2 linked regions of the Homo sapiens genome follow. The protein of the gene in region 1 purifies or fractionates together with the protein of each later gene. This does not show direct contact. Each region holds a gene or a part of one and is shown on either strand. Other genes may lie near its edges. The genes, in order: CACNA2D1 and NDUFS4.

Region 1 (2,754 bases):
ACTTTGGTGTTTTCTAAAATGTCAATACCAGTTATGAATGACACTACAAAATCACAACAATGCATTAGAAATGGTAACTGATGTCAACTCTTAGAACAATAGTTGGCAAAGTGATTCCATTTCCCCCCACCTTTTTATTGAAAAAAAAAATCTTGAAATGTACACAAATGGTACCTAAGGTATATTGGTGGTGGGAGGGAATTACAAATGTATGCAAAGCTAAAAACAAAACAAATGTTATCTTTTAAGCTACGTTAAATTATTGGTTATATCTTTGATATGTGGAGCATATTAAAGCATGCTGGATAATGTTAATAACTTTGACTTAAAAAGGATATGTAAGAAAATTTCCAGCATATACACATACCAGTAATTGGCATGTTCCAAAAAAAGAAAAACTGCATTTTATCATAAAAAATATCTACATACGTTCAGCCTTCAGTAAAATTATTAACTATTCTTAGAATTACACATTCATAGTTTTTACCTTTTCTTCAAATACTGTTTGCTCCAGAAAATAATTTTTAAAAGCATAAATAATCTGCTACCATATTAGTCTATAATGAAATATCTGATTTACTACACTAACCATTTTCACCAATGAGGCTGTATAAAAAACAACTTTTATTATTCACAATCAAGTATTCATGTGCATACATAGAGATTCAAGGTTTCCTATTTGTTCAGATTATTGTAAAACCCTTATCAACTTGCATGGAAATTTTGGCCAAACGATCATACCATTTAAAATGGAAGGGCAAAAGCAGCAGTAGCAGGAACTTTTGGATTGTATGTGCTACTATTGAAACGAACAAAGAGGAAACCTAGGATGAATCTTCATTGAGAACATATATGTACTTTTCAAAAAATAAATGTGTCAAATCTGATTTATGTACTTAAAATATCTGTACATAGGTTATCAGGCGAAAGCATGAATCTGTATAAAATTCATTAATTCTCATTTCACCATTTATCTAACCCCAATCATTCAGCATTTACATTGCACAGTATATTCAGAGTAGTTTAACAACATTTTAAAGATGACTTAAGTGCATTTACACTGCAAGGTTCAGATTCTTACATAACAATATCACTCAGTTAACTTTTCAATGACTACACTCTACAGTAAGAGAAAAAACAACTGAAAAGTTAAAATAGCAGCAGCATCATGCAAAATACCCTTGGTAAACCAAAGTTCATTTATCACAAGAAAAACATTTCCCCCTCCCCCCTGACAAGCTTTTCTTAGAGCATTTTTAAATATCTGGCTAGCACTACATAACTGTACTGTGAACAAAAGGAACATTACATCAAAGCATTTATTAAGGGCTTGCTTACATTTATGAGGAAATATGTCACATATTCTAATTTCTCCCTCAAGCACCTTTAGTTTAATAATTTCTTAGTTACTATTTTCAAACCATCAATTCATTACCCCATCAAAATTGAATTGGTCATCAATTGTGTTTTATTTTTGGCAAAGAAGCCGTTCTTCATAAGGCATTTTATTCATGGCAAATTTTTCATAGAAAATTAGCCATTATTTATATTTCAACAATTTAGACCAATGTTAATTCTCTCTTTCTCTATATATTTCAATAATTGCTACTTAAAGCAGGAATTAACTTTTCACAGAAGAAAAAGTGAAGGCAAAAATAATTTCTTTCCCCTTAGAGATTTTCTTAGTAAAATTGCAGCAAGTCAAAATTCCAGGTCAATATCAAGACATTTCTTATGGTTCATTAACAATTGTATGGGGAACCCTTTCACATGTAATCACCAACAATGCAACAACAAACTCCCAAATTTTCCAATAGAGGACACGTATAGGATTTTGCTTTGATGTTACACATAGATGATGCAGCATTCACACACGTTTAAGGATCTGACACCCTGACATGCAGCCAGTGGGTGCCTTAGGAGTCTGCGCCTTAGTGTTATGCCATGGAACAGGCCCAGCTAATGTTTGTCTGATTTTATAGCTGACCCTACGTTACTGTAATTGAGGGCAGGGCTCATGTTTTGGCAGGGTCTGGAGTTTAACTATGCAGATTTGGTTTTTAGAAGGTCATAACAGGCGGTGTGTGCTGCCAGATACCAGCCAAAGTAGTAGAAACTGGATTCCAATGATATACCACAGGGAGGGATTTAATCCAGAAACACCACCACAGTCAGTATAATCCTCCTGTTGTTAAAAAAAAAAGAAAAGAACAGAAAAAGAAAAATCTAAAAATCTTGAAAAATATTTAGTAACACATCTTTCAGAGTAATCCATATTTAGTTCACTTTCTGAACTTACCTTATAAAACTGCTGTAATTGAAATCCAAAGAAATTACTTTCTCCTAGATTTTATCATTGAGGAATTTCCCTAGCATCATTTGACAAATGCTTTAAATTTTTAGTTGTAGCTTTTGATGATTATGAAAGAAAATAATAAATGCTGTTTGAATAATATACTAATTTTAAAGAAAAAACTTTCACAGTATCAAAAATCCTATATATTTATAAATGCAAGAAATAAATGTAAAATTTAATAGTAGGTTTTATAATTCCCAAGAATTATGATTTTAGCAACTATGCTCCATATGGTAAAGTTGGGGACTGGTAAAATAAATACATTTCCATTTCCCATATTTCTTATACAATTTATAAGGCTCAACATAGAGTGCAATCATAGCATCTGGACCTTCATCAAGAATTAAAGTAAAATGGGAATAATGTATTTGAACCATTGTTTATGTTGGTTCAAATAC
Region 2 (3,837 bases), on another chromosome or scaffold:
TGTAGGCTGTGCAAGAAGCATGGTGCCATCATATGCTTCTGATGAGGCCTTCAGGCTGATTCTACTCATGGCAGAAGGTGAAGGTGAACCGACTTGTGCAGAGATTACATGGTGATAGAGGAGGCAAGAGAGAGAGAATGTGTCAGGCTCTTTTAAACAACCAGCTCTTGGAGGAACTCTTGCAGAAACTAATAGAGCAAGAACTCACCCATTACCACAAGGGCAGCACCAGACCATTTGTGAGGGATCTGCTCCAATGACCCAAAAACCTCCCGTTAGGCCCCACTTCCAACATTGGGGATCAAATTTTAACATGAAATTTGGAGGAGATAGCCCTTTCCAAAGATAGGCAAAAAGAAAGAAAAGACTTTGTTGCTATAGTGGTTATGGATCTCCAGTTTCCCATGGAATATGACATGCCTGTAATCACACACACATTAATCTGTGACATTAACCATATGACTGACCAGCTAAGGTTGAGATGACAGAATCCCCTTAAAGACCGGGACCTTTATTACAAACTTCCCTGAGAGCTGGTGTGGTTGGACAGAGAATGTCCTTTAAAAAAATGTTTGTTATTTTCTTGAGGACAGAGATCATGTTTTCACTGTTGCTCATTGTGTTCAGTGTCTAATATGTAGTAAGTGCTAAAAAATACGTTGAATAAATGAGAAACATTCTTTTTGTTGCCGAAGGTAACCACTTCACATATGTTATTTAGTACTCATTTTGGTATAGCAAACTGATTTCATACATGATGAAAAAGGAGTCTATTAATTTGCCCAAAGTTGAGAACTGGGATTCCAACCCAGTTTTGACTCAGCCCTTTGCTTTTAGCCAAGGCTTTCCTGCTCAGAAGGATCTAGGAGTGGTAAAAATAGTTTGTGAGATTGAAAAACATGTCTCTAATTATTAGTTTTGTACTCCTTGTATGATTAGTAGCATCATTTGCATGAACTATTTCTATCATATTATCCACAGCAGTTCATTCAAACTACACTTTTGGCTCAATGATAGTTTTGCCCAGTATGCAAAATATAACAGATGTCACATTCCAACACTTGATTCATTGCCTGGTTGGACTCCAACATCAATTTGTTACTTTAACAAACAAACAAAAGTTGGTTCTAATGGCACAACTCAAATTTATTTTTATGTTTTTTATTGTATCTGAATCTATATGGCCCCTAAGTTTTTAGAAGTGTTTAAGTTCTTCCACAGTAAGTAAATAGATATGATAATGCTATCTGCCAACTCTTTATATTTTTTAAACTGTAAAATTTATTTTGTAAAATGTCCTTATTTATGAAACCTTTAATGAGTTTCTTGCTTTAAGTATCTGTGGGTTAGTTGAAAGAAAGTTTTTATTACAGGTCTAAGACTTGCTTTTCTTTGAACATCTTTTATGGTTGAAATAGAATGTAAACTCAGTCATCAAATTTAGATTAGTTTTAGCTGTAAATAACTAATAGTCTGCGGTAGAACAAGTTTCTATAAACAGTATTTTTAATGTTTCAATATGTGCTCTACTAAAACTGTTCAGCATTGATCCATACTAACATGCAATTTAGTGAACTTACTAGGAAAAGCATGATAAAAGTTTTGGCTTTTCTGGGCGTACTGAGAGATCTAGCAAAAATGCATCCCAAAGTGCAAAAACCTTACATTTATTTCTCTTCATGACAAGTGTAAACTGTTAAGGTTAAGTGGGTGGGGCAACCGGAAGTAATTACTAAGGCCAGTGGCATTTTTGTGGTTTAATAAAGGCAGAAGCTAATTATTCAGTTTTTATTTAAGTGAAATGGTGCCAAAAAGGAGGTTCCTGTGGAGCAGCTGCACTCCTTCAGTGTTGCCCTAATTTACCAAAGACACAACTGTCACAAACAAAACTTTTAAACTTGATATATAGCCACAAAAGTAAGGAGGCTTTTGTTGGGAGTGCATGCAGAAGAACTCCTTTATACAAATCAACCGGCAGATGACGGACAATGATGAAAATTTGATTCTTTGAAGTCATAATAGTCATTGAAATGTGTGAAATTCTGGTATTGAAAAGAGAGCGGCCAGCAAGACTCTAAATCCTGGGTGGTTGCAAGAAGCTTGCTGGGAGGTTTTTCTGCATTTTGACACCAACTTCCCATTGCTTGTTCCCTGCTTCCTTTGTTAAAGAAAAAAAAAGTTGAAATCACAGAAGATAAATGGAGACAGTTGATAACCGAATCATACAGTTTTAATATGGAAAACTAGTATTTTATCATGGAAATTGGTATTTGAAAGAATAAAGTTCATATACATATACTGGTACATTCATAGTGATTTTTTAAATTTTCTCTTCATTTATGTAGACTTGTGAAATGGCAGGTCAGCTATCATCTCCTCCAAAATTTAAAATTGTTGAAGATATGGTGTTGAAAGAATGAACTTTGGAATTATGACATGCATCTTTCCAATAGCAAATTTTGACTTGAATGCCCTTAATCTGTGAATTATCATTGACTTATTAGTTATCATTTATTAAAATAGCATATTGCACATAAGGTTGTATTTCTGAAACTTTATTAGGATAATGACATTAATAATGGAAGCATAGGTTTCATACTTGACCCAACTATTCAACAATTAAGTTTTAAAATTCAATAAATCTGTGTATATTACTTATAGAGTAGCTTGTTTTATTAGAATTTACAGATAATTATTAACTGGTGAGTCTTGAGGTTCTTCAGGTGCCAGCTTGAAGGCTTTTCATACCTATGTGATTTAGTTTTTTGAATTATTATTTATAAATTATTTATCTCTATTTTACCAGTAAAATAAGAAATTTGTAAAAGGCAATAGTGACATCTTTCTCCAAAGCATTTCTAGCTTTTCTAAATAGGTTTCAAAAACTCACAGGTGATCCATATTGCCATACAAAAGTAGAAATCCATAAAGAATACAATTAGTTCAATATAATTTAAATAGTTTGCGGATTTTAAATTTTTTTGTGAAAGTTAGATCTCAGGTAGCTCCGTGTGAATTTAGAGGGAACCACACAAAGCGTTGAAGACACAAGTAGAGTTCAGCATAGTGCCTCATAGTTCTTTTCAAGTGTTACATTGTTTTAATGGAATCTTGGAGTGGGAGCTTTAGCCCATTGAAATGTGCTTAAAGAACAGGTTCTTCTGTCACTAGCCGAAGCTGTGTGGATGAAATGATAACAATAGGGTGTCGTGATGCATTTTTAAAGTGTGAGAAATCAGGTTGTCTAGACTGAGAGTGTGCCTACAGGGACTAGGAATTTTAGAGCCTCTGTACCCTTTAGGTGTCAAGTATATGAGAGATGCCAAGCCTCTTTATTCTGTCTTTGGCAGCAGCTCAATTGGGCTGTAGTACCTTACATGTCTTCTGCATGCAAAAACTGATTCTGTGTCATGACAACTTGGGTTCCCAAAATCAGAAACCCACTTGTTCAAATGCCAACTTTAAATTAGGGTAAGATACCAATAAATAATTGCTGTAATTCGAGAAGACATGGAAGATTGGTAGTTATGAGTTCAAAATATAAATAGCTTAGCAACATTGTGTAGACACTTTTTAAAAAAGGTTTTCTATATACTGTCCTTTCTACTTTGTAGCTCAAATACTGTTTTATAGTATAAATCAAGAAATACTATTTCAATTTTTTTCAAAACTTGAAAAAGTTTAAAATCTTAAGTTTTTTAATCACTTTGGCATATATGCATCACAGTATAGAAGTAGGTAAAGTAAAAGTGTTTCCTCTAATCTTCCTGAGGTAACCAGTGTTAAGAGTTTAATGTGTTTCCTTTCATATAGTTTTAAAAATAGACATAACTTACA

Evidence for each region.
Region 2: the proteins of CACNA2D1 (region 1) and NDUFS4 fractionate together in Homo sapiens (co-fractionation; one large-scale study listed by BioGRID). This does not show direct contact.

The regions. Positions count from the first base shown.
Region 1 is NC_000007.14:81,948,324-81,951,077, forward strand, and holds part of CACNA2D1 (voltage-dependent calcium channel subunit alpha-2/delta-1 isoform 1 preproprotein), read right to left. Parts: intron 2,186-2,754; coding exon 2,069-2,185; 3' UTR 1-2,068. UniProt on the Homo sapiens protein: The alpha-2/delta subunit of voltage-dependent calcium channels regulates calcium current density and activation/inactivation kinetics of the calcium channel. Plays an important role in excitation-contraction coupling.
Region 2 is NC_000005.10:53,640,442-53,644,278, forward strand, and holds part of NDUFS4 (NADH dehydrogenase [ubiquinone] iron-sulfur protein 4, mitochondrial isoform 1 precursor), read left to right. Parts: intron 1-3,837. UniProt on the Homo sapiens protein: Accessory subunit of the mitochondrial membrane respiratory chain NADH dehydrogenase (Complex I), that is believed not to be involved in catalysis. Complex I functions in the transfer of electrons from NADH to the respiratory chain.